3 separate regions of the Homo sapiens genome follow, and all the other regions are linked to region 2. The links come from fine-mapping of genetic effects on gene expression. A gene starts in region 2. Each other region holds a variant in brackets. All regions are shown on one strand. Distances are from middle to middle. Region 1 overlaps ZNF749 (zinc finger protein 749). Region 2 holds the start of ZNF772 (zinc finger protein 772). Region 3 holds the start of VN1R1 (vomeronasal 1 receptor 1).

Region 1 (8,342 bases), 35 kb after region 2:
GTTTGTGTTTTAAGCTATTATTACAAAAGAGTCAAAAAGCTTTTTAAAATTTTAAAAGTTCATGAAGTAAAAACGTTACAGTAGACTAAGGTTAATTTATTACTAAAGAAAAAATTAATTTAGAGTAGCCTAAGTGTACAATGTTTATAACATCTACAATAGGGTACAGTAATGTCCTAGAGCTTCACATTCACTCACAACTCACTCCCTGACTCAACCAGAGGGGTCCCGCAAGCTTCGTTCATGTTAGTGCCCTATAAAGTTTTTACCATTTTTCATACATTTTTACAGTACCTTTTGGAAACTTAGATATGTTTAGATACACATTTACTTATCATTGTGTTTCAATTACCTACAATATTCAATACTGTAACATGCTGTTAAGGTTTATATCTGAGGCGCAATGGACCATATCATATAGCCTAGGTGCGTAATAGGCTGTGCCCTTCAGGTTTGTGTAAGTACACTCTTTGTTCACACAATGACAAAATCACCTTAAGATGATTACTCAGAACACAGTCCTCTTGTTAGGCGACACATGACTACAATGGGATTTTATTCGGCCTTTAAAAAAGATGAAAATCATAAGCTATGCTACAACATGGATAAACCTTGAAGACATTTAGGGAAATAAGCCTCAAAATAAGTCACAAAAGACTAAAACTTAAGTTTCCTCATATGAGATATTTATAGTAAAATTCATACAGTAGTATTGTCAGGGGCTGGTTGGCGTAGGGAATGAGGAAGAGGAGTAGTTTAAAGCAGCGGTCCCCAACCTCTTTGGCACCAGGGACTGGTTTCATGGAAGCCAATTTTTCCACGCATCAGGGACAGAGGAGGGGGCAGACAGTTTCAGAATAAAACTGTCCCACCTCAGATCATCAGGTATTAGTTAGATTCTCATAAGGAGCACACAACCTAGATCCCTCACAGGCACAGTTCACAATAGGGCTCAGGCTGCTATGAGAATCTAATGCTGCTCATCTGACAGGAGGTGAAGCTCAGGTAGTGATGCTGGCCCGGTTCCTAACAGGCCACAGACTGGTACCAGTTTGCAGCCTGGGGGTTGTGGACCCCTGGTTTAAAGGGTATAATGTTTTAGTTTCATTAAGTTGAAAAAACTTCTGGATATTAATTGACAACAATGCGAATGACTTAACACTACTGAACAGTACAGTTAAATATGGGTTAAGATGGTAGATTTTAAGTTACCTGTAATTTGCCACAATTATAATTTTTTTCTTTTTGAGACAGAGTCTCGCCCTGTCACCCAGGCTGGAGTGCAATGGAACAATCTCAGTTCACTGCAACCTCCGCCTCCCAGGTTCAAGTGATGCTCCCTGCCTCAGTCCCCTGAATAGCTGGGATTACAGGCACCTGCCACCATGCCCAGCTAATTTTTGTATTTTTAGTAGAGATGGGGCTTCACCATGTTGGCCCGGCTGGTCTCAAACTCCTGACCTCAGGTGATCCACCCACCTCTGCCTCCCAAAGTGCTGGGATTACAGGCGTGAGCCACCACGCCTGGACATAAATGTTTTTAATGTAGTTCCCAGCAGGAAATCCTCGCAGATTTCCATCTGAACTCTTTCAACATTAGATTTACATATATTAATAGGTTCTTGGTCCGATGTGAACCTTTTGGTGCTGAATGAGGTGACAGTTTTGGTGACTTTCCTGCATTCACTCCACTAAGGCCTTTTTCCAGTATGAATTATCTGATGTTTAATGAGGCTGGAGTTGTATTTAAACACTTTGCTGGATTCACCACACTCATAAGACCTTTCTCCAGTGTGAGTTTTTTGGCGCTGACCAGTATTACATTTGTTGAAGTCTTTCCCACATTCCCTTAACTTAAAAGGACTTTCTCCAGTGTGAGACTGCTGATGTATAATAAGGCTCGATTTAGTCCTAAACAATTCCCTACATTTACTGCACTCATGAGGCTTCTCCCCAGTGCAAACTTTATGATGTTTAATGAATGTAGAGCGGTATCTAAGAAACTTCCCACAGTTGCTGCATTCATAAGGCTTTTCTCCAGTATGAACTCTCTGATGAATAATGAGTTTGTAGCTATCTCTAAAAAATTTCCCACATTCACTACACTCATAAGGTCTTTCTCCAGTGTGAACTTTCTGATGTCTACTCAGTGTACAGCGATATCTAAAGAATTTCCCACATTTGCTGCATTTATAAGGCTTTTCTCCAGTGTGAATTCTCTGATGAATAACAAGTTTGTAGCTGTCCAAAAAGAATTTCCCACATTCATTGCATTCATAACGCCGTTCTCCAGTCTGGATTTTCTGGTGACCATCTAGATGAGCCTGTGTAAGGAAGGCCTTCCCACATTCACTACACACATAAGGCCTTGGCCTGAGGTCAATCCTCTTGTGTTGAATGAGGTCAGACCTTTTTGAAAATGCATCAGTGTGGATTTTCTCATGCTGAACTAGGTGGGACTTTCTAACAAAGGCCTTCGCACATTGAGTGCATTCATAAGGCCGTTCTCCAGTATGGATTTTCTGGTGACCAACCAGATGAGCCTGTGTAAGGAAGGCCTTCCCACATTCACTGCATGTATAAGGCCTTGGCCTAATGTCAATCCTCTTGTGTTGAATGAGGTCAGACCTTTTTGAAAATGCATCAGTGTGGATTTTCTGGTGCTGAACTAGGTGGGACTTTCTAACAAAGGCCTTCTCACATTCAGTGCACTCATAAGGCCGTTCTCCAGTATGAATTTTCAGATGCTGAACAACATTATGTTTGAGGCTAAAGGCTTTCCCACATTCGCTACACTTATAAAGCCTTTTGCCAGCATGAACTCTCTGGTGCATATTGAGTGTGGAGCGGTGACTAAAGAATTTTCCACATATGCTGCATTCAAAAGGCCTTTCTCCAGTATGAACTCTCTGATGTCTACCGAGTGTGAAGCTGTCCATAAACAATTTCCCACATTCACTGCACTCGTAACGCCTCTCCCCAGTGTGAACTTTCTGATGTCTGATGAGTTTGGAGTTATACATAAAAAACTTCCCACACTTGTTGCATTCATAGGGCTGTTCTCCAGTATGGGTTTTCTGGTGACCAACCAGATGAGCCTGTGTAAGAAAGGCCTTCCCACACTGGGTGCATTCATAAGGTGTTGGTCTACTGAGAATCTCCTGATGTTCAATGGGGTCAGACCTTTTTGAAAGAAAGCCTTCACTGTGAATTTTCTGGTGCTGAACTAGGTTGGACTTTCTAATAAAGGTCTTTCCATATTCAGTGCCCTCATAAGGCCTTTCTCCAGCATGATTTTGC[T/C]GATATTTAATAAGGTTGGAGTTGTACCTAAACAATTCCCCACATTCACTGAACTCATAAGGCCTCTCCCCATTATGGGTTTTTTGGTGCTCAAACAGCCCATGTTGGTGGCAAAAGTCTTTCCCACCTTGGCTGGAGTTGAAATCATTCTGTTCACCTTGAAAGGCTTCCCCATCCTGGGTATCCCTGTACAGCTTCCACCCACTGTTTAAGACCTGTTGCTGGAGAAGGTCTGAGCTGGCAGTAAAATCCTTGCCACCCTGCGTGCATGTGAAGTTCCTCTCTCCCACGTGAGCACTGTGGTTCACAAATGAAGGCCTCCACTCATCACTTCTGGTGAGCTTCTCTCTAATCTGCTCCTTTTGGTGCAGGTCATGCTCTGCTGCACATGTGTACAGCCCTTGCTCAGGGTGTGTTCCATCGTGCTCAGCCAGGTGCAGAATGTCCTTCAGAATTGAGCTACACATCTTGCAGGGCTGGGCCTTCAGGGTGGACAAAGCTGGCTTTGGAATTGTGACCTGTAACACTCTTACAGAAACACACTGCTTGGAAGGTACCTCCTCATCCTTGGCTCCATGCCAACAACCTGTAAGAACAGAAATGCTGGTGAAGTGCACGTGAACTCCGGAGGGAGGAGACAGCCCCATCACAAATGTCTGTGAGACACACCCACAAATGAGGGCACAGGACTGGTCACAGGCAAGGAAATAAGGCCAGTGAGAGGAAGGCCCAGTGTTCAGAGGTGGGCCTGTGAAGTGTGTGTAGTGGGGGAATCCTGGTGGTAAGGACACAAGGGAGAAGTACCATGCAGGGAGGGCAGGTGGGGTCTCCAACTCACTCCTCTATAAATGGCTTTCAACAGGCCATGACGGTTGTGTCCAGATCCAGAGAGATCTGATTGTGTGAGAGCGAGTATTCATGGACTACTGAAGGATACACGCAGACCTCATAACACCTAAAGTACAGGTCATACATTAGACAGCACTGCAAAGGGAGAGGTGGAAGAGAATGGTGGAGAGATGAAGGCTGGAGAGGAGGGGTCAGAGGTGGAAGCCAGGGGTCAGAAGTCAGAGTAAAAATAACAACAGGGAAGGAAAGGAAGAGTGACGAGTGGCCAGTGGCCCTGCATCAAACAATAGTGGTCACAAGGTAAGTTCTCAATGTGATTTGAACCCAGCCTTGATATCACATCCTTTCCCAGCTTTCACCCACCAGGGCCAAGTCCTTCTGAGTGTCTCTTGCCATTAATAGAGGACTATCCACTCTGCCAGGCACCCAGAGACCTCCCCCTTGCTCAAGGTGAGCAACTATCTAGCTGCGGCATAAGTCCAGCTACGGGAAAGGCAGGGAAAGGGAGGGGACAGCATGTACACAGAGCAATAAACCCAGGACATGCTGCATTCTAAAGCTACCAGAACACCCAGTAGAGCGTCCTGCAGAAATAACTTCACAATCCTCACAAGTGGTGACCAGGGAGGTGCCTGAAATTCCTAGCACAGACACTGTCTCCAAGTATGTCAGCAAGGGGAACAGGGAAACCCTTGGACAGAGGTTTCACACATTTGGACAGAGTAATCAAACCAGGGACAGGCACCGCCATTAGGATATCTTAAAGAAACCTGAAGATTTCTGACTTCCGAGCCTTATCTTGTAAAGTTTCAGAGCAACAGAAGCTGGGGCTGCTTAAGGGGAGGTGGTACAGTATACACAGCCCAGCTCTGGCTGCCTTATCACATTTGCCAGGAAACCAGGAGAGGACAGGACGTAGCACTCACAATCTGGTGTGGGAAAGACAGAGTTGTCATGGAAAAGAGCAAAAAAACAGCACCCAGCACAAGACACCAGAGTAGGTATGAAGGCCTTACCTACTGATGACAAAAGCGCAAAGTTCTCCAACATCACATTGCTGTGCAGGTGTCTCTGAGCATCATTAAGGATCCCCCATTCCTCTTGGGAGAAATATATGGCCACATCCTCAAAGACCATACAATCCTGCCAAAATTATGACACTTCAGTCTATGAACAACTTCTTATTCTGTGTTTCCTTAGATCTGTATTTATCTACTTAAAATCTAAGAATTGGAGGGCCAAACTAACAGCCAATGTTTTTACATTTCCCTTGCGATCCAGATCCCATATGCTGAACCACTATCTAATGCTCATACATGATTATTTCTCCTGTCCTAATCAACACAAGCCCTGTCACCACACAATAAGGGATAATCTCTTAGCCCTAAGGCTGCCAGACTTATGCAAACCACTGAGTTTTAAGCTCCTCATCCCACCCTGCATGCCTTTCCTGCCAAAACCCCAATACAGTCTCTGATATATGCTTTCCCTTCAGTCATGCCTCTGCCTCCTAACCAAATCTAGTATTTCCCGTGGCCTGGTGCAGCACGGCATTCCCCCTGCACTAAGGAAATGAAAGTAATTAAAATTATTTCAATGCCATTAGCCTCTCTGTCATCACTCACTCTTTTCCAAAAATGAAAATCCAGCGGGTCAATCACTGATACACTTCCCTCTCCAGAATCTTCAGTGCTTCCCCAGTACCCACACACATCCATCCCCTGCTTAGCCTCCACCCACTTCCCAAGGAGGAAGAGACTCCACATCCTGGTAGCATTCGCACTTCTCTCGCCCCCACTGCTACTGATTGCTGAGTCCAGCACAGCACAAAGATGGGTGGGGAGAAAGCAAAAGCATCATCAATGCCTAGCCCAGGGCGCCCTACCCTCTTTTTTTTTTTTTTTTTTTTTTTGAGACAAGAGTCTTGCTCTGTCACCCAGGCTGGAGTGCAGTGGCTCACTGCAACTTCTGCCTCCCAGGTTCAAGCAATTCTCCTGCCTCAGCCTCCTGAGTAGCTGGGATTACAGGCACCTGCCACCACTCCCGGCTAATTTTTGTATTTTTAGTAGAGACGGGGTTTCCCCATGTTGGGCAGGCGGGTCTCGAACTCCTGACCTCGTGATCCACCTGCCTTGGTCTCCCAAAGTGCTGGGATTACAGACATGAGCCACTGCGCCCGGCCGGCCCTACCTTCTTTTGTCACCCCATTTCCTTGGGGTCTCCAGATCTTGCCTCCCAGACACCCAAACTCAGGCTCACTCTTCTCCCTTACGTGCCCATTGCCAGGGCTGGGACCACGCATTCATGCTCCTCCTCACCTTCGCATCTCGCTTTGGACAGTACCTCTCTCATGTATCTAATGCCTCCACTCTTGCAATACTAACAGCAGCCCTGGCCCAACCAGGAGCATTTCCATGGCCTCCCAAGATGCCACTCTGTACATGGAGTCCTGCAGTGCACCAGAACCCTATTTGCTCCTGGGCTGCCCAGAATATAATGTTCCCTAGCGCCTGGGGCAGCACCGAGCCCTGTTCTGAAGGTCTCCCTTCCCAGTCCTGTTTTCTGGTTTAACCTCAGCCCCCCCAAAACCCAAGTGACAACCTCACAGTTCTTGCATACCTCCTCTGAGTTCCAGATCTTGGCTGTCTCCCCCTTTTGCAATGTACATGTTTTCCCATAAGCAGTCACAACATTCTCTATCCCCCTAATCCTAATCCAAAGCCCAGATACACTGACCTCCCCAATGCTATCCCCACCCCAGGCCTAGCAATGCTCCTTGCTGATCCCATCTTCCCCTAAAGTAGTCTCACAGTTTGCATGAAACTACCCAGGTCCAAGCAAGACTCACCATGAAACCCTGGTGAGTTTGTGGAGATGCCTCACCATCCATCTCATGGCCACTCTCCCCTCAAAAGCCCTTCCTTATACTCCACAGGCTGCCCCCAACATAACACACAAACATACACACACATACCCTCAGTCGATCCACTCTCTCATCTGTCTTTGTGACACCCACCAACACCATCCAGGTGCCCAGTGGAGACACCCAGTCCTCAGTCTGTTCCTTCTCCTTCCTTCCTACTAACACCATTGCTTCCTAAATCTGACCCAGTTTCACAACAGTTCAGCTATCATGTAGTGGATGTCTCCTTCCTGAACACCTCCAATGAACTCCATTCCTGTGTGTACAACTGCCAGCCTGGCACCTCCACTCAAAGTCTCTGAAACATTTTTTGTGTATTTTTGTTTTTGTTTTGGCTTGGATTTTTGTTTTTGTTTGTCTTACTCTGTTGCCCAGGCTGGAGTGCAGGGGCACAATCATGGCTCACTGCAGCCTTTACTTCCCAGGCTCAGGTGACCCTCCTGCCTCAGCACGCCGATTAGCTGAGACCACAGAGAGACGCCACCACACCCAGCTATTTATTATTATTTGTAGGGACAGAGTCTCCCTATGTTGCCCAGGCTGGCCTCAAGCAATCTTCCCACCTCTGCCTCCCAAAGTGCTGGGATTACAGGTGTGATCCACCATGCCTGGCCACTGGAACATTTTTGACTTGGCCAAAACTTGGTTCCTCATATGCTCTACTATATAAACACTCCCCCTACTACAGAACTTACTACATCTTAGTTGCTGGGACATCCATCCTTCCAAATAAGGCCAAAACTGTGGGGCCATTCCTGACCCCCTCTTCCATCTCAGCTCCCAAGCTTCCTTGCTCTCTACGTTATAAAATACAGGCAGCTCTAGATCAAACACATACAGAAGCCCCCCACTCCTCCCACTTCCACCACCGCCACTCTCGTTCAGTCACCAACAACCTCCACCTGGGCTGTTGCTGGACCCATCACCCAGGTATCGGTGGCTCCACCCTCACCTGCACGTGGTCTTCCATTCTGCAGGCAGAGGGAGCCACTAAAACCTGGGTCAGGTCACCTCTTTTTCCCCCCTCCTCAAACCTTCCCTAGTTACCATCGCCCTCAGATGAAAGGCCCAGAACCTTAGACTGCCATTCCATGCCGATCCCGCATGCCCTGTATGCCCCAACCTCCTACCCTGCTGCCATACTCTATCACGACCAGATACAACATGGATTTTCAGTTCACTAAACATCCCAGCTAAGTCGCACCAGTAAGCATTTGAACTTTCTATATCCCGTGCCTGAACGCCCTGCCACATCTTATCCCATCAGTTG
Region 2 (10,560 bases):
CAGAGGCTGCAATCTCAGCACTTTGGGAGGCCAAGGCAGGCGGCTGGGAGATGGAGGTTGTAGCGAGCTGAGATCATGCCACTGCACTCCAGCCTGGGCAACATTGAGCACTGAGTGAACCAGACTCCGTCTGCAATCCCGGCACCTCGGGAGGCCGAGGCTGGCAGATCACTCGCGGTTAGGAGCTGGAGACCAGCCCGGCCAACACAGCGAAACCCCGTCTCCACCAAAAAAGTACGAAAACCAGTCAGGCGCGGTGGCGCGCGCCTGCAATCGCAGGCACTCGGCAGGCTGAGGCAGGAGAATCAGGCAGGGAGGTTGCAGTGAGCCGAGATGGCAGCAGTACAGTCCAGCTTCGGCTCGGCATCAGAGGGAGACCATGGCAAGAGAGGGAGAGGGAGACCGAGAGGGAGAGGGGAGAAGGGAGAGGGGAGAGGGGAGAGGGGAGAGGGGAGAGGGGAGAGGGGAGAGGGGAGAGGGGAGAGGGGAGAGGGGAGAGGGGAGAGGGGAGAGGGGAGAGGGGAGAGGGGAGAGGGGAGAGGGAGAGGGAGAGGCAGAGGCAGAGGCAGAGGCAGAGGCAGAGGCAGAGCTGGTCTTAAAGGGAGAAGAGCCGAATTTTTCTTAAAGACAGTTTTTCATTTCAATCAGGCAAATACCCAAGAATTATTATTTCAATTGGGTAAATGCCCAAGAATTATTAGTATTATTATTAATTATTATTCCACATTGGAGAATAATATATATATTATTCTACATTGGAGAATTATATACACACACACACACAAACACACACGTATATATTTGAGACAGGGTCTCCTTCTGTTGCCTAAGCTGGAGTGCAGTGGTGCCATCCTAGCTCACCACAACCTCCACCTCCCAGGATCAAGGAATCCTCCCACCTCAGCCTCCTAAGTAGCTAGGACCACAGGTGCAAGCCACCATACCTGGCTAGTTTTTTTTTTTTTTTGCGGAGACGAGTTTTGCCATGTTGCCCAGGCTAGTCTTGAACTCCTGAGCTCAAGCCATCTACCTGCCTAGGCCTTCCAAAGTTCTGGGATTACAGGCATGAGCCATCACATCCAGCCTGCATAACAATATGGAATAGGCACTTCGGGTTTGTTAGCATGAACTTTTGGTAAATTTTAATTTACAAATGACATTCACAAAAATTAACATGTAGTTGTACAGCTCAATGAATATTCCCAAAGTCAACACATCTCTAAAAGCAGTGTGCCAATCAAAAAAGAACAGTGTTAGTATACCAGCATTTCTTTTTTTTTTTCTTTTTTGAGACAGAGTCCCACTCTGTCACCAGGCTGGAGCGCAGTGGTGCAATCTCAGCTCACCGCAACCTCCGCCTCCCAGGTTCAAGCGATTCCCCTGCCTCAGCCTCCCGAGTAGCTGGGACTACAGGCACGCACCACTATGCCCGGCTAATTTTTTGTATTTTTAGTAGAGACGGGGTTTCACCATGTTGCCCAGGATGGTCTCGATCTCCTGACCTCGTGATCTGCCCACCTAGGCCTCCCAAAGTACTGGATTACAGGTGTGAGTCACTGCGCCCAGCCATACCAGCATTTCTGTAACCCCCGCTGTAAGTCATTCACCCATCAAGGAGGTCTAATTTGTGGCATGTCTGATTTCTTACATTGTCATCTAACATAGTTTTGCCTATTTTTCAGTTTGCATTCATTTGAATCTGGTAAATGCTCATCCACCTCCTTCATTAGAATTCTGTCAGGATGATTACTAGAATTTAGAGCTGTATGTACTGCATATGGCTTAGAATATATGTCTGATGAGAAATGACTCACAAGGATGTGTGGATAGCAGTACAATTATTGTTTTTTTAAAAAGACTGTGCAATGTGCAATGGCCCATCCTTCATTGAGCCTTAGGGCTTCTGTGAAGTCCTGCTCCTTTTGTTTTTTAGCTTGGCTTCCGTCTTGGGATTGAGACAACAAGGATGTTCTAGTTTCAAAGCACAGGAAAACAAAATCATTGGCTTTAAATGGAATAGGAATTATATGAGATTTTTATTTGAGAATTCTTTTTAAAAAAATTTTGAGAATTCCTAATTGAACACCATCCATCTGCATATTGGATTAAACAGTTACTCTAAATGTACCAAGATTGCACTCTCACATAAATGGCACATGGCTATGCTCTCTCTGCTGGGAAGTGGACTCAGACCCTCACTGAGCTTTCATGTTCCATGAAGTGTGAAGGGCAGCACCAAATCGATAACATGGTTGTGAATCTCCTGTTCGCTGGCCTAGGTCTGCAAGGAAATGATTTTAGTTCTTGCTGTAAAGGAGAGAGGAGGAAGAGAATGTGGATTGAGTCAGGGGCATTACAGGAGTCCTCTGCTGAGGAAGAAATCCTAGGGGCTGGACAGTAGCAATGAGCCTGACAAAAAAGACAACATAGAAATTACTGGTGGGACCACTGAAAATGCAGGACAGGTTATAACCCTAAACCATGTTATAACACTAAAGTTTGGAGGGAAGCCCTTCCCCCTCTAGCCACCAACATGCTTCTGATTCTCCCAAATAGAACCTGATTTGTGTTGAAGTCATCTTCTGCATGATATGTGGAGAATGAACTAAAGTAGAGAAAAAACTGATGTAGGATACAAGGCAGAAGGCATTGTGTAGCTCAGGAATGTTGGCAGATTGGCCCAAGGGCATGAAATTGGAGGTGTTGAGAAGAAGATGACCTGAGACATATTAGGAGGCAGAGGTAACAGGATATGTGGGTGGTTGGGATGATACGGTGAGGCTCAGGCAATAACATTTCACCTATCAAACCCTCTGTATTTGTGGGCCAGCAGGACTTTTCCTGTTTTGATTCTTGATTGGCATCCAAGGAACCCACGTTTAGGGAATAAATGAAGCTGAAGGTTCATGTTTCTGTGGTGAAGAAAAGGCAAGACACATTCTTGTCCTCATGTCAGCTGCCTGGGACATTGAATTTTTCATAGCCTTGTTTGTCTAACATAGAAAGGGCTCTGAACCTACCCAGATAGATGACCTAGGGTAGGAGGCCATGCTGGGAAGTAGTTAGTCATGGCTCCTTGGACTCCATTGCCAACTATGCCACTTAACAGCTACAGCTGAAAATAAATTATAGACCCAAGAAACCTCAGTTTCCTCATATTAATTTAGGTGACAAATCCACTTTACAGGGCAAAAGTGCGTAGTGTTTATAAAAGGTCTGATAGAATGTCTAGGATATGGACATTATTAAATGTAAATTATTGTCATCCTTATCCCACCCCTGTATGAATAACCAGAAGATGCTGATGATATGCAGTTCCCTGATGACATCTCAGCCCAGTTGGGTGAGTCAAGGGCCTGGTAACCTTCAAGCGTAGGTCTTGGTTTCTCTAAAGCAGATTTTGGACGTTTCTAACTACAACATGATTCTTTTCTTACTGACAGAGTAGGGAGTCTGGGAATGTTAGTTGTGCTTTCAATCACAATTCAAATTCTGTGGAAATTCACTGAAGAAAAGAGAATACCTCGTGAAGCGTGTTTTGGTCCATCAAAAATTACTAACTGCTTATTTGAGTATTTATTGCATAGTCATTTAGGTTTTGCAAAAGTTGTCAAAACCAAAATGAGTAACTTGTGTAAAATAAATAAATAAGTAAATAAATAAATAAAGCCAGGAGGCTGAGAAAAGAGGGCACTCAAACACACATGCTTAAGATAAGAGCTATTACTGTCTCTGAGGGCTCTTAATGCACATATTCCCGTTAAAAGAAGTTTTGACAAGAACTTCTCAAACCGCAGCTTGCTACAGGAGTTACAAGGACAGCTCTAGATGTAGTAGAACACTTGCCTGACAGATTGTCTCCACTAATGAACTGGTGTTAACCTCTGCCATAAACATCTGTGACCAATGTTCTTTTTATCTCAAAACAAATTATATATACTTTTCCCTTTTGCCTTTGAAAGCTTCTCCTTGTTTCAAGCTCTCTGGATATGCCTATAGTCCCTATAGCCTGCATGTCCTGGATTTGCAAATCCCCTGTGCATTCCTGAATGAACTCAACATCTTTGAAGAATCTCTGTTATTTAGGTTGACAGTTTAAATATATCCTACATTGTGCTTTTCTTTGCCTCACTTCTTCCACTTATTTTACTATTATTTTACCTTTCTATTGATTATTTATTTATATTCCAAACATTTCCTCTTCTAGTTTGAAAAGTATATACGCTGACTGTATTTATTATATTTAGGCTAAAAATTACAAACGTTTAACACATTAGCGTGCCATACAGGATTGTAATACATTTGCTTTCCACTTGGAAATATAAAAAATTTAAAACTTTGAGCAACTAGCCTCCTTTCAATTTATATGTAGTTGAGGTTACGCACGGGAATTCCATCATTCTAACTCAATAAGTATATCTACTTATGTTTTACACTGTAATATGCTGTTATTTTAATCAAAAGATGCACTTCTTTTCATCTTCATTTCTTCTCTCATTGCAGACTTTTCACCTGAGATCAACTTTCTTTGGCCTTGAGTATTATTTTAAACATTATTTTTTGTGTAAATGTATTTCCATTACATTTATCATTTTTGGTTTCAAATAGTTTTATATCACACTTCCATAAAAGACATTTTGTTGTGTATAGACATCTAGTTTGGTGGTTATTTCTTCTTTACAGAAAGTGTTCATGTTGCCCTTTTCATTGCCATATGACATTTGATGAATTCTGTCTTTTCAGACACTTGTAAAACACTTAAAATATTGAATACATCTCTGTATATGGAGTATGAAATACTATCTTGAACAAGAGTATTACTTGTTGGGTTTGACACAATCACTGCTGTATAAGCAGGATAAATATTTTCTGAGGTAACAGACAGAAGGGTTATTCACTTACTTCAAGGCCACCAAACATCCCCACTCCACGTTCCACATCATGGTGTCTGGAGTCTTTTCTTTCTTGTGCCTGACAGAAAATGCTGAGGCTCGCCAAACTAACTCTGGAGCATCAGGCTACACGCATTTGAAAACAATATTTGTTAACTTCCAGCCATAGAAATCTGAGTGACGTCAGTGTATGGTGTGTCCATTTTATTTTTTGATGAGCATTCTCTGCGTAAGGAAGGCTGAAATCATGTCTCTAAACATTCCTTTGATGTCAAACACGACGTTCACCAGAAATACAGATATGGCTCCTTCAAGAGGAAGCTAAGCTCCGTCTGGGCCTTGGAGACGAGGGACACCATTTCCACGCGCCCCTGGCGGTCTTCTCTGGGCTTTTAACCTGGAGGTGAAGCGAGACGCCGCTTACTAGTGTTGGTGCCGTGGGAACTACATTACCCAGGAAACTTGGCGGCTCTGGGCCAATGAAAACCCAGGAAATAGGCGTTTCCGTTGGTCCTCACCAACGTCAGGGCGGGACTTCCTCTACCATCCTCGGGTGGACATTTTGTTTGCTTTTCCATTAATCCACTGGTTTAGTTTCCAGAACGCAATGTCAGACCTGAGGTGACAGAAAAGGGAAAACGTGAGAGAGTGTCTTCTTCCCTGAAGAGAGGTGGGCCTGAGGCTTGACAGTGGCGCTGCCTGAGTGACCTAGCCGCTGGGCTGGGCCCTGGACAGCTGATCCCAGGTTCCTGCACTTGTCGCCACCCTTCCGTAGTCCACAGGCCTGATGGCGGCGGCTGAGCCGATGGGCCCGGCACAGGTGGGTGCTGCGTCTGCGAGTCTGCGCGCTGACCCCCATCTCTGAATCCCAAAGCTTCGAATGAACGATTCCTCGGGTTACTGCAGCTCAGGCCCCTGTATCTAGAACAGTGGGGGCGCTCGTGTTTGGGACCCATTTTGACAGCACGAGTTGAAGGACGTTCCAGGCAGAGAGACCAGTGTATGCAAAGGCTCAGAGATGGTTCACAGCTGGAGCATTTGGGAAAACTGGGCCTTTAGTGTCTGAAAGGATCAGAGCGCTTTATAAGTGATTGCACCTGGAATATCATCCTGAGCAGCTGGGTCTCTATTCTGAGGGTGATGGGAGCCATGGAAGGTTCTGAACAGAGGAGAGCCAGAATCCGAGGGTTTAAAAAGTATTCCATAGACTGCTCATGGAGGGCAGACTCTTGTTGGCCATGGGGGCGGATAATGAGCACTGTTCCGAGCTAACACAGTTAAGAGGTATCCTTGAAGATGGAAGCACAGAGGGTAGACATTCAGCTCCCAGGCACATTGTAACTGGGTAGGAATATGGGATGGGGTTGAGCCTTTGGGGTTCCTTCAAGATTGCTTGACTCGCATAGTCTCCCTCTTCCCCACAGGTTCCCATGAACTCAGAAGTAATTGTGGACCCTATACAGGTGAGGGGAGAATGTCCATGCTCTCACCGATCCCACCCCCACCCAATACGCTCTCCAGCATTGTGGTGTTATATAGAACACTCTCCTGCTACTCTCCGATCTCTTGGGTCTGAGGACTCTGGAGAAGCCCCAAGCCCAGGGTCCTGACTCCGGGCCAGGGGTTTTATGGAGGGGTTTCCATTTCTGCCAACCATTGGAATAAGGTTGGAAGGTTGTTCCAGGCACAGGAACCAGCCTGTGCAAAATACTTAGAGGTGAGACTGAGAAGGGAGTTTTCAAGAAATTGCAGGTCTCTGTCATGTCTGGTGGGAACCAAGAGCAAGGGGGCGGGAATCATCCTGAAATGGCTTAAAGATGATTATGTAGATTGGGAGTTAAAAGAGAATATTCATTTCACAGTGGTAGTGCATTTAGTGAGCCAGGAAAGTGATGGTGGAGAGCCAGAGTTGTGAGATAACTGTGATCCAAAGAGTGATGTACATATGGAAAGAAGTGTAGACTGATGACGTCTGGGCTTAAAGGAGAAAGGCAAGCCCATCTTTGGTTGTCTGGTAAGCATGATGTTAGTGACCCCAGAGGAATTTGCTTACAGAAGGGTGAGGCCCTGTATGCTAAGCACAGAGCTTAGAGGGTGACAACTTCTTCACCTGCCTGTGGTTGCTATGGGTAGACACAGTGATCCATTGGGACCATGAGGCGAGAGAAGACACCAATGACATCTGGTCCTGATATTTCCTGAGTTGAGGAGTTAGGTAGGAGGGTGTACAGGAGGGAGATGTGTGGGGGCACGGATGGGGGTTCTTGGGAGAGATGCTGCTCATGGACTTGGCTCTCCTGATTGTGGCAGGGGCAGGTGAACTTTGAGGACGTGTTCGTGTACTTCTCCCAGGAGGAGTGGGTGCTCCTTGATGAGGCTCAGAGGCTCCTGTACCGTGATGTGATGCTGGAGAACTTTGCACTTATGGCCTCTCTGGGTAAGGCCGTCACATCCACCCCAGTGACTTGGACTGGGTCCTGCCCTTCCCCTTTTTTTCAGGGCATCTTTGTCCTTCCTACATCAGAGCCGTGGACACTGTCTCATTTCTTAGTGCCTGGAGTAGGTTCTGTGAGTGCTGGGCTTGGGCTGTTTGCACTCCTACTTTCTCCTTTTGAGCATTCCCAGCGCTTGCTGTCTCAGAGCCTTGCAGGCATGGATTCAGGAGTTATGCATTGTATTGTCAGCCCAGTGGGTCATATCCATCTTGTCCTTTCCCTGTCTGAATTCCTCTGTCTGTATCCATGACACCTCTGTGCCTGGGATTCTGCGCTCTTCCTTTAGCTGACATTTCCTGTGGCCTGCCTATGTCAGGAATTGTAGGGACCATTATGGTCGCTACTTGCTAGGACCACTGCACTATTCCTGCAAGACCTTACTCTGAGATTATTTTAATAATATTTAGTTTTCTATATGGGTTACCCAGACCAGTGCTGTTCTATCTTTCCCTTAGGACATACATCTTTCATGTCCCACATAGTTGCCTCACTGGTGATGGGTAGTGAGCCCTGGGTACCTGACTGGGTGGACATGACCCTAGCTGTTGCCACAGAGACTCCAGGTGGGAGTGACCCTGGTGAGTAGGAGCTGGGGAAAGGTGTGATGTCAGGGCTGGGTTCATATCATTCCATAGCCTCTTTGTGCCTACAGTTGTATTAGTGCTAAGGCCACTGGCCTTTCATACTCTGGCCTTTGGCCTCTGGATGTTCCATACCTCTGCCTTCATGTCTCACCTGTTCCTCTCCATGGCTTGTTCTACAGTGCCTTCCAGCATTGGCCTGTACTTAGTGTTTCATGAGATGTGTAGCCCAAATAGTCCTTAAACACCAACTACTGAGTAGCAATTTGATTTTCTTTGGTATGGACCATAACCTTCTGCACAACTCTCACCTGTCCCCAGCAGCCAAGAAAATCTGATTGTGAATGACTTTGAGACCTGCCTCTTTTTTGTGCTGTACCCCACATCTTTGTCCTCTCCCAGTTGAGGCCTTCTCCATTCTATGACATTTAGATGCCAACTACCGTATAGTACACATTTGCTGAACTTGAGTTTGGACCCTTGTCCTAACAACAGTCCTATGACCTTGGTCTTAGTTGTGTTAGACACATATTTGTAGTGAGGCTTCCCCTCTTCCACCTGTGTCAATTTGTACTTCACCAGCATTTCTCTGCTTTCAGGTTGTTGGCATGGAATGGAGGATGAAGAGATACCTTTTGAGCAGAGCTTTTCTATAGGAATGTCACAGATCAGGATTCCCAAGGGAGGTCCTTCTACTCAGAAGGCTTACCCCTGTGGGACATGTGGCCTGGTCTTAAAAGACATTTTGCACTTGGCTGAGCACCAGGAAACACACCCAGGGCAGAAACCATACATGTGTGTGCTGTGTGGGAAACAGTTCTGCTTCAGTGCAAACCTTCACCAGCACCAGAAGCAGCACAGTGGAGAGAAACCCTTTAGAAGTGATAAGAGCAGGCCCTTTCTTCTGAACAACTGTGCTGTGCAATCAATGGAGATGTCTTTTGTGACAGGGGAGGCTTGTAAGGACTTCCTAGCCAGCTCAAGCATTTTCGAGCACCATGCCCCTCACAATGAGTGGAAGCCACACAGCAACACCAAGTGTGAGGAGGCCTCTCACTGTGGAAAAAGGCATTACAAATGCAGTGAATGTGGGAAAACCTTCAGCCGCAAAGACTCACTTGTTCAACACCAGAGAGTCCACACTGGAGAAAGGCCTTATGAGTGCGGTGAATGTGGGAAAACCTTTAGCCGCAAACCCATACTTGCTCAGCACCAGAGAATCCACACTGGAGAAATGCCTTATGAGTGTGGCATATGTGGGAAAGTTTTTAATCATAGCTCTAACCTTATTGTACATCAAAGAGTACACACTGGAGCAAGGCCTTACAAGTGCAGTGAATGTGGGAAAGCCTATAGTCACAAATCTACACTTGTTCAGCATGAGAGTATCCATACTGGAGAAAGGCCATATGAGTGCAGCGAATGTGGAAAATACTTTGGTCACAAATACAGACTCATTAAACATTGGAGTGTTCATACTGGAGCAAGGCCTTATGAGTGCATCGCATGTGGGAAGTTCTTTAGCCAAAGCTCTGACCTTATTGCACATCAAAGAGTTCATAATGGTGAAAAGCCTTATGTGTGCAGTGAATGTGGAAAAGCCTTTAGCCACAAACATGTACTTGTTCAGCATCATAGAATTCACACTGGAGAAAGGCCATATAAGTGCAGTGAATGTGGGAAGGCCTTCAGGCAGAGGGCTTCCCTCATCCGCCACTGGAAAATTCACACTGGAGAAAGGCCTTAGGATGGGAGATAATTCCGTTTCCTTGTTCAACATAATAACTGACATCAGAGAGAAGCTCCAAGCATAGCCTTTATGTGTAGCCGACAGCCAGAAGTAGAACTTTATACACTCAAACACTCACCCTGGGGAGGTTCTTCCGAGTGCCAGCTATATGGGAAGCCTTCTGGAGCTATGCTGAATTTTCTAGACTCTTGCTGGAATTTCGTCAAGGCAGTGCCTGTTAGAAGCCATCTGTCTTTGTGCTGGAAGAGTCCTGCCTTGTGCCAAAGTAACCCCAATGTGTTTCAAAAGACAGACCTCTGTACTATTCCCTTCCCTGGAGGGAATCATCAGTAGCCTGAGGCCATCAAGGATTCTCACTTTTTTTCTGCCCCACTACTGGTTTAAGCATGAGCATGACCCAGTTTTAGCCAGAAAAATGGGAGCTTTGTTCTGCTGACCACTGGCAGAGGTTTCCCTTCATGGATATAGTTGATCTCACATGGCACTTGGGACGAATTTTTCTAGCCTTCAAGACACCTGACCTGAAATTGGCTGCCTCATATTCTGGTTTTGCAACAAATGCCTTAATTTTTAGACTATCTGAAATCTTGAGGATTCTGTTCGCTTTGTGGGTTGGGTTGAGAACAGAATTGAGCTAAGCCAGTATGAAGGGAAGAACAGCTTTTGTGAGAGCTCCAACTATCTGTATCTCTGAAGTGATAGTAGGATGGCAAAGACTAGCTCTTATGCTAGTGTCAAGCTAACTTACTTGACTGCTTCAGCTCTCCTAGGAAAGAATGCCAGTCTTTGTAGGCCTAATCTTTTGGTCTATATGTTAAGATTTTTTGTGTAATTGAGGTCAC
Region 3 (10,560 bases), 24 kb after region 2:
GTGGAGTTTGCAGTGAGCCGAGATAGCGCCACTGCACTCTAGCCTGGGCAACAGAGTGAGACTCTGTCTCAAAAAAAAAAAAAAAAGAAAGCAAAGAAAGAAAAAAAAATTAAATTAAATTAAAAAAAAAAAGGAAAATCTGTCTGAAAATTCTCACCAGTTACCAACACTTCTTTCTGAGGCTAGGAGGAGAAGGAGGTGGTATGTTAAAGTCAATAATCACACTAACTTTATACATACAAGAAGCTTTCAAAATAGTCATAGTAAAAATGGTACTTTATAAGGAGAAGCTGAAAAAATAGGAAACCAAATGCATATTGGAAATAAATTATACAACTAGGACAATGGAGCAAAATAAGAGATTAAAGCAAAGAATCAGGAACTATCTTGAAAATAAATGATGAGTTCATATAAATAGGAAAAACATTTGTCAACAAGTGGTTTGTGGGAATCTAAAAGGTTTTCATACCTCAGAGCCTGAGTTTTTTTTTTTTTTTTTTGAGACCGAGTTTCACTCTTGTTGCTCAGGCTGGAGTGCAATGGCATGATCTCGGCTCACTGCAACCTCCGCCTCTGGGGTTCAAACGATTCTCCTGCCTCAGCCTCCCGAGTAGCTGGGATTACAGGCATGCGCCACCACCTCTGACTAATTTTTGTATTTTTAGTAGAGACGGGGTTTCTCCCTGTTGGTCAGGCTGGTCTCGAACTCCCGACCTCAGCTGATCCACCAGCCTCGGCCTCCCAAACTGCTGGGATTACAGGCGTGAGCCACCTCTCGCCTGAGAATCTTGATACTGCTGTGTTATTGATTGCTCCACCCCTAAAGAGATGTAGTTATTCATGGGAGAAAATACCTCATAATTTTCCCTGATGATAGCAATTCCATAGAGACACCAAAAGAATCTAAATTATGGCCGGGCGAGGTGGCTCATCCCTGTAATCCCAGCACTTTGGGAGGCCGAGGCGGGCGGATCACGAGGTCAGGAGATCGAGACCATCCTGGCTAACACGGTGCAACCCCGTCTCTACTAAACACACACACACACACACACACACACACACACACACTAGCCGGGCGTGGTGGTGGGCGCCTGTAGTCCCAGCTACTCAGGAGGCTGAGGCAGGAGAATGGCGTGAACCCAGGAGGCTTCAGCCTCCCGAGTAGCTGGGACTACAGGCACGCACCACAACACCCAGCTAATTTTTGTATTTTTAGTAGAGACGGGGTTTCACCATGTTGGCCAGGATGGTCTCCATCTCCTGACCTTGTAATCCACCCGCCTCAGCCTCCCAAAGTGCTGAGATTACAAGCGTGAGCCACCGTGCCTGGCCGCAGTTACTATTTCTTTTGTGATTGATATATATGAATATTGTGCAATGAAATTCCCTCCCAATTGAATTATCTTTCCCTAAAAATAAACCCAAGCTTTCTGGAACATATTGAATTTCCTATTTAACAAGTTTTAAGGATATCTTAGGTGTTTCTGGGATTAGTATTTATTTTCAGGATCTTTTGCATTTACTTGTGAGAAATGGCATTGAGATAAAAATGTGTGGGCTCAAGGTGGTCATGGTTATTTCTACGGAGTCAATTCACAATCTCTAGACCTGTCCGGTGGAAAATAACAGAAATATATGTGCTTAAAATAAAATATACCATGATGCAATGTTGATTGTTCCAAAAATTATAGTTTTTAAAAATTCTTCAAGTTAGCATTTGTACTGTGCTGAAGGCCTTGTTACCAATTGTATTGTAGCGTTTTTTTAATTTCTTTTTTTTTTTTTTTTGAGACAGAGTCTCGCTCTGTCGCCCAGGCTGGAGGGCAATGGTTTGATTTCAGCTCACTGCAACCTCTGCCTCCCAGGTTCAAGCGATTCTCCTGCCTCAGCCTCCCGAGTAGCTGGGACTAGCACGCGCCGCCATGCCCGGCTAATTTTTGTATTATTAGTATTTTGTATTATTAGTAGAGACAGGGTTTCACCATGTTGGCCAGGATGGTCTCCATCTTGGCCTCCCGAAGTGCTGGAATTACAGGTGTGAGCCACTGCACCCGGCCTAAAATTTGTTTCAATGCATCAATAACAATGGTGTTTACTAAAATATTAGTGTGGAAAAGGTTTTATGGTGTATTATTTTTGCTTTTCATATCTCCAGGCTACTTAATTGAAGGTTTTATTGAAATAAGTGTAGACTCACAAGCAGTCATAAGAAATAATACAGAAAAAGCCCTGTCCATATTACCCAGGGTTCCGTCATGATTACATTTTGCAAACTATAGTATAATATCACTCTAATGATATTGACTCTTCTGTGTTCTGTTTTTATATATTTCCCTAGTTTTGCTTGTATTTACTTGTTGCATGTGTGTAAGCCCTGAGTTTTATAGGTTTGATTTGTGGATCTGTTGTGCGGTTGAGCCCTCATTCATTCACCTGCTTCTCTGCAGTTGGACACACAAGCAATTGCCTTTGCACGAACAGGGACAATCTTAATTTCTGTTTAAGATGAGAAAATATGGTTGGAGACACATTAAAACTTCTGTCTCCACTGATGACAAGATACTTCTTTCTGCTTTTTTATTCTACTGATTCTTCAGACCTCAATGAAAATCAACATCCCCTAGATTTTGATGAAATGGCTTTTGGAAAAGTAAAATCAGGGATTAGCTTCCTCATTCAGACTGGAGTTGGGATCCTGGGAAATTCCTTTCTCCTTTGTTTTTATAACTTAATTTTGTTCACTGGACACAAGCTGAGACCCACGGACTTGATTCTCAGCCAACTGGCCTTGGCTAACTCCATGGTCCTTTTCTTTAAAGGGATACCTCAGACAATGGCAGCTTTTGGATTGAAATATTTGCTGAATGACACTGGATGTAAGTTTGTCTTTTATTATCACAGGGTGGGCACAAGAGTTTCCCTCAGCACCATCTGCCTTCTCAATGGATTCCAAGCCATTAAGCTCAACCCCAGTATATGCAGGTGGATGGAGATCAAGATTAGATCCCCAAGGTTTATTGACTTCTGTTGTCTCCTCTGCTGGGCCCCCCATGTCTTGATGAATGCATCTGTTCTTCTATTAGTGAATGGCCCACTGAATAGCAAAAACAGTAGTGCAAAAAACAATTATGGATACTGTTCTTACAAAGCATCAAAGAGATTTAGCTCATTACATGCAGTCTTATATTTTTCCCCTGATTTTATGAGTTTGGGCTTCATGGTCTGGGCCAGTGGCTCCATGGTCTTCTTCCTCTACAGACACAAGCAGCAAGTCCAACACAATCACAGCAACAGACTCTCCTGCAGACCTTCCCAGGAAGCCAGAGCCACACACACCATCATGGTCCTGGTGAGCTCCTTTTTTGTTTTCTATTCAGTCCATAGTTTTCTGACAATTTGGACAACTGTAGTTGCAAACCCAGGCCAGTGGATAGTGACCAACTCTGTGTTGGTCGCCTCATGTTTCCCAGCACGCAGCCCTTTTGTCCTCATCATGAGTGATACTCATATCTCTCAGTTCTGTTTTGCCTGCAGGACAAGGAAAACACTCTTTCCTAATCTGGTTGTCATGCCATGAGTCTTTTCTCTTCATGGAATTCAGCTATTTATCATAACTCTTGCTAAGATTTAGGAAATATTAACTACTAGTTATTTGTGATAGCAACATACACATGGCCAGTAATGCTCTTGTCCAGGAAGATCTAATACCAGAGCTAAAAATGAAAGTCATGGATACTGTTACACAAAGAACACTCTATATAACTGTGTTAAGTCCTTCAGACAAGTTCAGGAAATCAAAAAGTTTAAAAAGGGAATTCTTTAGAGATTTAGGGGAGATTTCTCATTTTTGTACTATGAAGAATCATGGAATGTTTTAAAAATATTTTTAAAGCACAGTTTGATTCAGGTGCTTCTTGAACAGCATAAATCCCCTGGAGAGTCCACATGTAAGAAAGACATGTGCAGGCCGGGCACAGTGGCTCACGCCTGTAATCCCACCGTTTTGGGAGGCTGAGGCACTCCCAAATGCCTCAAGTGATCCACTCAAGATGACTTGAGGCCAGGAGTTCGAGACCAGCCTGGCCAACATGGCAAAAACCCTGTCTCAAATACAAAAATTAGCCAACCATGTGGCACACACCTGTAGTCCCAGCTACTCCAGAGGGTGAAGCACGAGAATTACTTACCAGCTTGGGTGACGGAGGGAGACTCAAAATAAAAATAAAAATAACTAAAAGTGGCTGGGCACCGTGGGTCACGCCGGTAACCCCAGCACTTTGAGAGGCTGAGGTGGGCAGATCACTTGAAGTCAGGAGTTCAAGACCAGCCTGGCCAACATGGTGAAACCCCATCTCTATTAAAAATACAAAAATTAGCCAGACATGGTGGCAGGTGCCTGTAATCCCAGCTACTCAGGAGACTGAGGCAGGAGAATCCTTGAACCCAGTAGGCAGAGGTTGCAGTGAGTCGAGATCCCACCACTGCACTCCAGCCTGGGAGACAGGGCAAGACGCCGTCTCAAAAAAAAAAAAAAAAAAGAAAGAAAGAAAGTGCTTCTGCACTCCAGCCTGGACAATAGAGCAAGACTATCTAAAAAAAAAAAAATTAAAAATCAATATCAAAATAAATGAGTATTCTCATAAGCAAGACAAGCCTAAAGAAATGTGAGTACTAACTGTAATGTGGTTACATTTAGAGACACATGAAAAAAAATAAATAAAAGAATAAAAAATAATAAAATAAATGCAATGTGGTATCCTAGGTGGAATTCTGGAACAGAACATGTATTTTGGTAAAAACTGAGGAAATCTCAATCAAAGATGTACTTTAGTTTAATAATGTATCAAAACTGTTTCACTAATTGTAAATAATGCTGTATACTAATATATGACTATATATTAGTAACAACTAGGTGTGCTTGTAAATGAGATATCTCTGTACTATATTTGCAATTTCTCTGTACATCTTAAAATGTTCTAAAATTAAAACTCTATTAAAATAGAAAAATAAGATTTTTTTTTAAAAAAAGGGAAAAGATTTAGAAATTTGGCCAAATATACAGATAACAAATAAGCATATAAAAACTTATTCAGCATCATTAATTATTAGAGAAATGCAAATTTAAAAACCACACTGACCACAACACATCTATGAAAATGGTTAATCTTTAAAATACACCATAACCATCATGGACAAGGAGGTATAACAAATGCAATTCTGCTAAATATATTCATATAAACACTTGTATATGAATGTTCATGGGTCTTTGTTAGTTTTTTAGTCCAACACTAGAAACAATCAAAATATTTATTAATAGATTAATAAATTGTGGTATATTCAATGCAATACTCTTCATCAACAAAAAATGAATACGCTTAACATGTATAAATATCAAAAAATGCTCCATATGAATGTAATGTAGGATTTCATTTGTATAAGATACTAGAAAATTTATAGGCCGGGCATGGTGGCTCACGCCTGTAATCCCAACACTTTGGGAGGCCAAGGCAGGTGGATCACTTGAGGTCAGGCGTTCGAGACCAGCCTGGCCAACATGGAGAAACCCCCGTCTCTACTAAAAATACAAAATTAGCCAGGCGTGGTGGCGCATGCCTGTAATCCTAGCTACTCAGGAGGCTGAGGCAGGAGAATCGCTTGAACCCAGAAGGTGGAGGTTGCGGTGAGCTGAGATCGTGCCATTGCACTCCAGCCTGGGCAACAAGAGTGAAATTCTGAGAAAGAGAAAGAAGAGAAGAGAGGAGAGGAGAGGAGGAGGAGAGGAGGAGAGGAGAGGAGAAGAGAAGGAGGGAGGGAAAGAAACAAAGAAAAAAGAAAAGAAAAAAGGAAAAAGAAAAGAGCAGGAGGGAGGGAGGAAGGAAGGAAGGAAAGATGTATATAGTGACATAAAGTAAACCAGTGGCTACCTGAGCATAAAAATTTGGGTAGGACTGTGAGCGAGAGAGAATAGAAAAGGGTACAAACAAACTATTGAGGCAATGGATATGTTTATTATCATGACTTTGGTGATTGTTTTTATATATTTTACACTTTAACAATGTGCAACTGAATGTCACTAATACCTCAATAAAGCTGTTAGAAAAGAAAAATTCCAAATAAAATCTGGATTTCTCAATCCTCTTTTATAACCTCTGGCAAAGCTGTGTTGATTCCATCATTAGCCTCTCCTCATGTCTTACGTGGGTCAACTCTGATTTTATAGTATCAAAAACTGGAAGCAATGTTGTTGGAAATTCAGAATCTCGGGGAAGAAGAACTGGAGACAAGGAAGGTTATGTCCACCTGAGTCACCAGGAATTATGTTTAGGTTTAAAAAAAAAAAAGACTTATCTCAGAAGTATAGAATCTCCCTTCATTCAGTCATGAGGCTCCTACCTGTGCAGTAGTGGTTTGAATTAACAGG[C/G]TTTATGTCTGTGTCTGTCTTCCACTACTATAGCAAAACACCACAGATTGCGTAATTTATAAAGTAGTTTGTTTCATACAGTTCTGGAGGCTGGGAAGTCCAAGGGTATGGCACTGGTATCTGCTTGGCATCTGGTGAGGGCCTTGTTACTCTGTCATAATATGACAGAAGGGCAAGTGAGCATGAAAGACAGAGACAGCTGATTTTATAAAAACGTCACTCTCGGGTTAACAAACCCACTCTTATGATAAAGGCATTGATTCCTTTATAAGGGCAGAGCCATCATGACCTAATCACCTCTTAAAGGTCCCATTTCTCCACACTGTTAAAATGGCAATTAAAATTCAACATACGTTTTATAACGCCAGAGACACAAGAATCCATAACACCTTTGGATTACTTGCTCTGACAATGACTTTGCCTACAGGAGATACACACGTCTGTAGGTCCTCAGAGTTTCTGTATACCCTCATCTCACATAGCCATAGTTACTGAAACATTCATGGATGTCTCTTTACAAGGCGCTCATCCATTCCACTCTAGTTTGCTGGTGTCTCATACTTCATATTAATACAATCACTGTTTCTGTACAGACTATGGTTCCCAAACTGCTTGCTATGGTTTGACCATCTCCTCCAAAAGTCACATTGAAGCTTAATCTACAGTGTGGTAGTACTGAGAGGTGCGACCTTTAAGAGGTGATTGAATCATGAGGGCTCTATCCTCAGGAATGAATTAATCAATTTATGGGTTGATAGACTAATGGGTTATCCTGGGAGAACTGGTGGTTTTATAAGAAGAGAAAGGGCCAGGGGCCGTGGCTCTTGCCTGTAATCCCAGCACTTTGGGGGGCCAAGGCGGGCAGATCACCTGAGGTCAGGAGTTCGAGACCAGCCTGATCAACATGGGAGAAACCCTGCTCTACTAAAAATAAAAACTTAGCGGGGTGTGGTGGCACATGCCTGTAATCCCAGCTACTCAAGAGGCTGAGACAGAAGAATTGCTTGAACCCGGGAGGCAGAGGTTGCGGTGAGCCAACCCAGGAAGCGGAGGTGCAGTGAGCCAAGATCGCGCCATTGCACTCCAGCCTGGGCGATAAGAGCGAAACTCCGTCTCAAAAAAAAAAAAAAAAAAGAGAGAGAATGATTTGCGCTAGCACGTTAACATGTGAGCACACTCAGCAGCCTCACCATGTGATGCCCTGTACCACCTTGGGACTTTTTGCACAGTCTACCAGCAAGAAGGCTCTTACCAAATGCGGCCACTCAACCTTGGACCTTTCAACCTCCATAACTGTAAGAAATAGATTTTTCTTTATAAATAACCCAGTTTCAGGTATTATTTTATAAGCAATGGACAACAAACTAATGCACTCTTACATTTTACATCCAGGAACATAACCTACATCATTTTTGGGTTCAAGACACATAGCTCATAAGGCACATCACAGGAGCAAGCTATCCCTAAACAATACTGGAGAATATGGGACATGCATGGGTACAAATACCCAGCTCTCACAGCTGCCATAAATCCTGACAGTTGTCAAACCAATTGTCCTGGCTGCAAGCTGACTGTGCAACCATAAATAATCTTCAAATTCAGGGTAAAGGATTTTGGATAGAAATCCTTCTTTTTCCCAGGAACCTTCTGAAGCAATATACATCAGGCGTTTGTGGATTGAGTTGTTTTTTTTTTTTTTTTTTTGGTTTTTTTGTTTTTGCTATTTCCTTGGAAGTACATAAAATTGAAAACCTCACAAAACCACTCACTTTTTCATTTTGGCAGACTCCAATTTTGCTCTCAACCCACAGCACACAGAGAATAAAACTGCAATGAGTAAATGTAGCTTAAACAATGACTTTATCATCACTAAAACCAGTATAGTCACGTGGAAATTGACTGGGTTTGGGCAGCTTGGAAGGTGAAAAATCTATCACCAACATTATAAGACAAGCAATAATACCCATGAAGAAAGGAAAATCTTTACAAGCTGCCAGCTCAAGCCAGCCTGTATCCTCTGTCCAAAGTTGGATGATGTCTGCACCCAAACCAGCCATGGAAGTGGGAATGAGGCCTCGCCCGAAGGGATCAGACTCAATAACTCCAGATAAAGGTAGAGAGCACAGCTATCTGCCCTCCCTAAGCATTTTAAGGTGATACACACTGTGATATCAGCTAATAGTGGATGGAAGTCTTTTGTAGTACACACTTTCAGTGACTTAACACTGGCAAGGATCCCAGGCAGGTCAGAAAGTGCAAGGTAATTCACAAAAGCTTCTCATATAGCAGACAATTACAACAAACCTCCCTTGTGTGGATGTTTGGATGTAAGATTCCATTTCTGGTTGAGGTCTCCCTCACAAAAGCTAATATCCACAGCTTTACTATTTTATCTGCTGGCAAAAGCACTTTGCCTGCCTGCATTCCTAAGGTCTTTCTCCAAGATGGTTTACTGGTGCTGAATGAGGTTAATGGCTGAAGACTTTCCAACATTCGCTGCACTCATGATACCCTTCTGGGTATGTAGTTTTAAGATTTAGAAGTTTTCTTGATGTCAGGACATGACATGACAGATAGATGAAAGGTGGAGCATGTTGTAACTTACAACTCAGAACCAGAGGACATGATTCAGGGCTGCACCGGAGTTGTGAAGGAATATAGATAGTAATACAGCAAACTGGAGTTGTAGGAGGCAGCTTGTGTGTGGCAAGTGGATTCGGGTTAGCTAGATTTTCTGGGCTTTCTATACTTGGCCAATTTGAGTAATTTTACACATTTCAGGGCATAGGAGTTGTCCCCAGATGTCTGATACCTGCTCCTGGGGTGACTGGGGCTGATATATATTGACCCAGAGTTTGACAGCCTGTTAAGGAAAGTGGTTGGAAGTGTACTTAATCAGCTGTTCCAAATGTAGCACTGTCAAGCCTCTAGCAAGGGCCTCAACAGTGGACAGAAACATTATTCTTTTAAAAGAATTATGTATCAAAACACCTTGGTACTAGCACAAATGCATACATATAGTGGAATAAAGAGGCCAGACGGAAGTCCTCATACTTATGCTCAGATTTTTGACAAGAGCGCAAAAACTTATTAAGGAGTCTTTTCAACAAATGACTTTCAAAAAGCTGGATATCTATATGCAAAAGAATGAAGTTGAACTCTTACCTTCCTCCATTTACTAAAACAAACTGAAATAAATCAGACATAAAAGTACAACTTAAAACTATAAAACTCCTAGAAAATAACATGAAAAAAGGTTCATGACACTGGATTTAGCAATAATTTCTTGGGTATAATACCAAAAGCATAGGAAACAAACATAACATATATTGGACTCCATTGAAATTTGAAAACTCCTGTGCAAAAAAAAAAAAAAAAGACATGAACAGAATGAAAAGGAAGCAGACTGAATGGTAGACAGTATTTGAAAAACACATATCTGCAAGGGGTTAATATTTAAAATACGTATACAGAATATGTACATATATAATACGTACATGTTAACCACTCAACAAAGTATATATACTTCACATCATGTTGTACACAACAAAAGCATACAATGTTATCTGAAAATTTACAAAAACTTTCTTCAATGGGCAAAGACATTTAACAGATATTTCTCCAAAGAACCTATACAATTAGTCAACAAGCAAATGAAAAGATGCTCAACACCAATACTGAAATGCAAATTAAAAAACCATAATAAAATAACATCTTACACCCATCATGATTAAAAAACAAAGTGTTGGCAATAATGTGAAAAACTAGAACCCCTGCACTGGTGAGAATGTAAAATGGTGCAGCTGCTATGGAAAATAATTCCCCCCACAATTTAAAATAGAATTAACGGGAAGTGGCCAGGCGTGGTGGCTCACGCCTGTAATCCCAGCACTTTGGGAGGCTGAGGCGGATGGATCACAAAGTCAGGAAGATCAAGACCATCCTGGCTAACACGGTGAAACCCCGTCTCTACTAAAAATACAAAAAATTAGCCGGGCGTGGTGGCGGGCACCTGTAGTCCCAGCTACTTGGGAGGCTGAGGCAGGAGAATGGCGTGAACCCGGGAGGCGGAGCTTGCAGTGAGCCGAGATTGTGCCACTGAACTCCAGCCTGGGTGACAGAGCAAGACTCCGTCTCAA

What was found.
Region 1: its variant is fine-mapped to the expression of ZNF772 in whole blood (INTERVAL, PIP above 0.99).
Region 3: its variant is fine-mapped to the expression of ZNF772 in whole blood (INTERVAL, PIP 0.95).

What each region holds. Positions count from the first base shown.
Region 1 is chr19:57,438,835-57,447,176 of GRCh38, reverse strand. It overlaps ZNF749 (zinc finger protein 749), which reads right to left. Exons shown (of 3, transcript NM_001023561.4): 2 at 5,166-5,292; 3 at 76-3,886. The coding sequence ends at 1,692. Among named protein-coding and RNA genes, the nearest start is that of ZNF749, 7.7 kb to the right of the region's middle. The variant T/C (reference allele first, on the strand shown) is at 3,301.
Region 2 is chr19:57,472,429-57,482,988 of GRCh38, reverse strand. ZNF772 (zinc finger protein 772) reads left to right here and starts at 5,423. Exons shown (of 4, transcript NM_001144068.2): 1 at 5,423-5,712; 2 at 6,317-6,355; 3 at 7,203-7,329; 4 at 8,568-10,560. The coding sequence starts at 5,680. The coding sequence ends at 9,715. RefSeq lists enhancers at 4,909-6,108, 5,699-6,222.
Region 3 is chr19:57,448,442-57,459,001 of GRCh38, reverse strand. It overlaps VN1R1 (vomeronasal 1 receptor 1), which reads left to right and starts at 1,862. Exons shown (of 1, transcript NM_020633.4): 1 at 1,862-4,212. The coding sequence starts at 2,516. The coding sequence ends at 3,577. The variant C/G (reference allele first, on the strand shown) is at 6,422.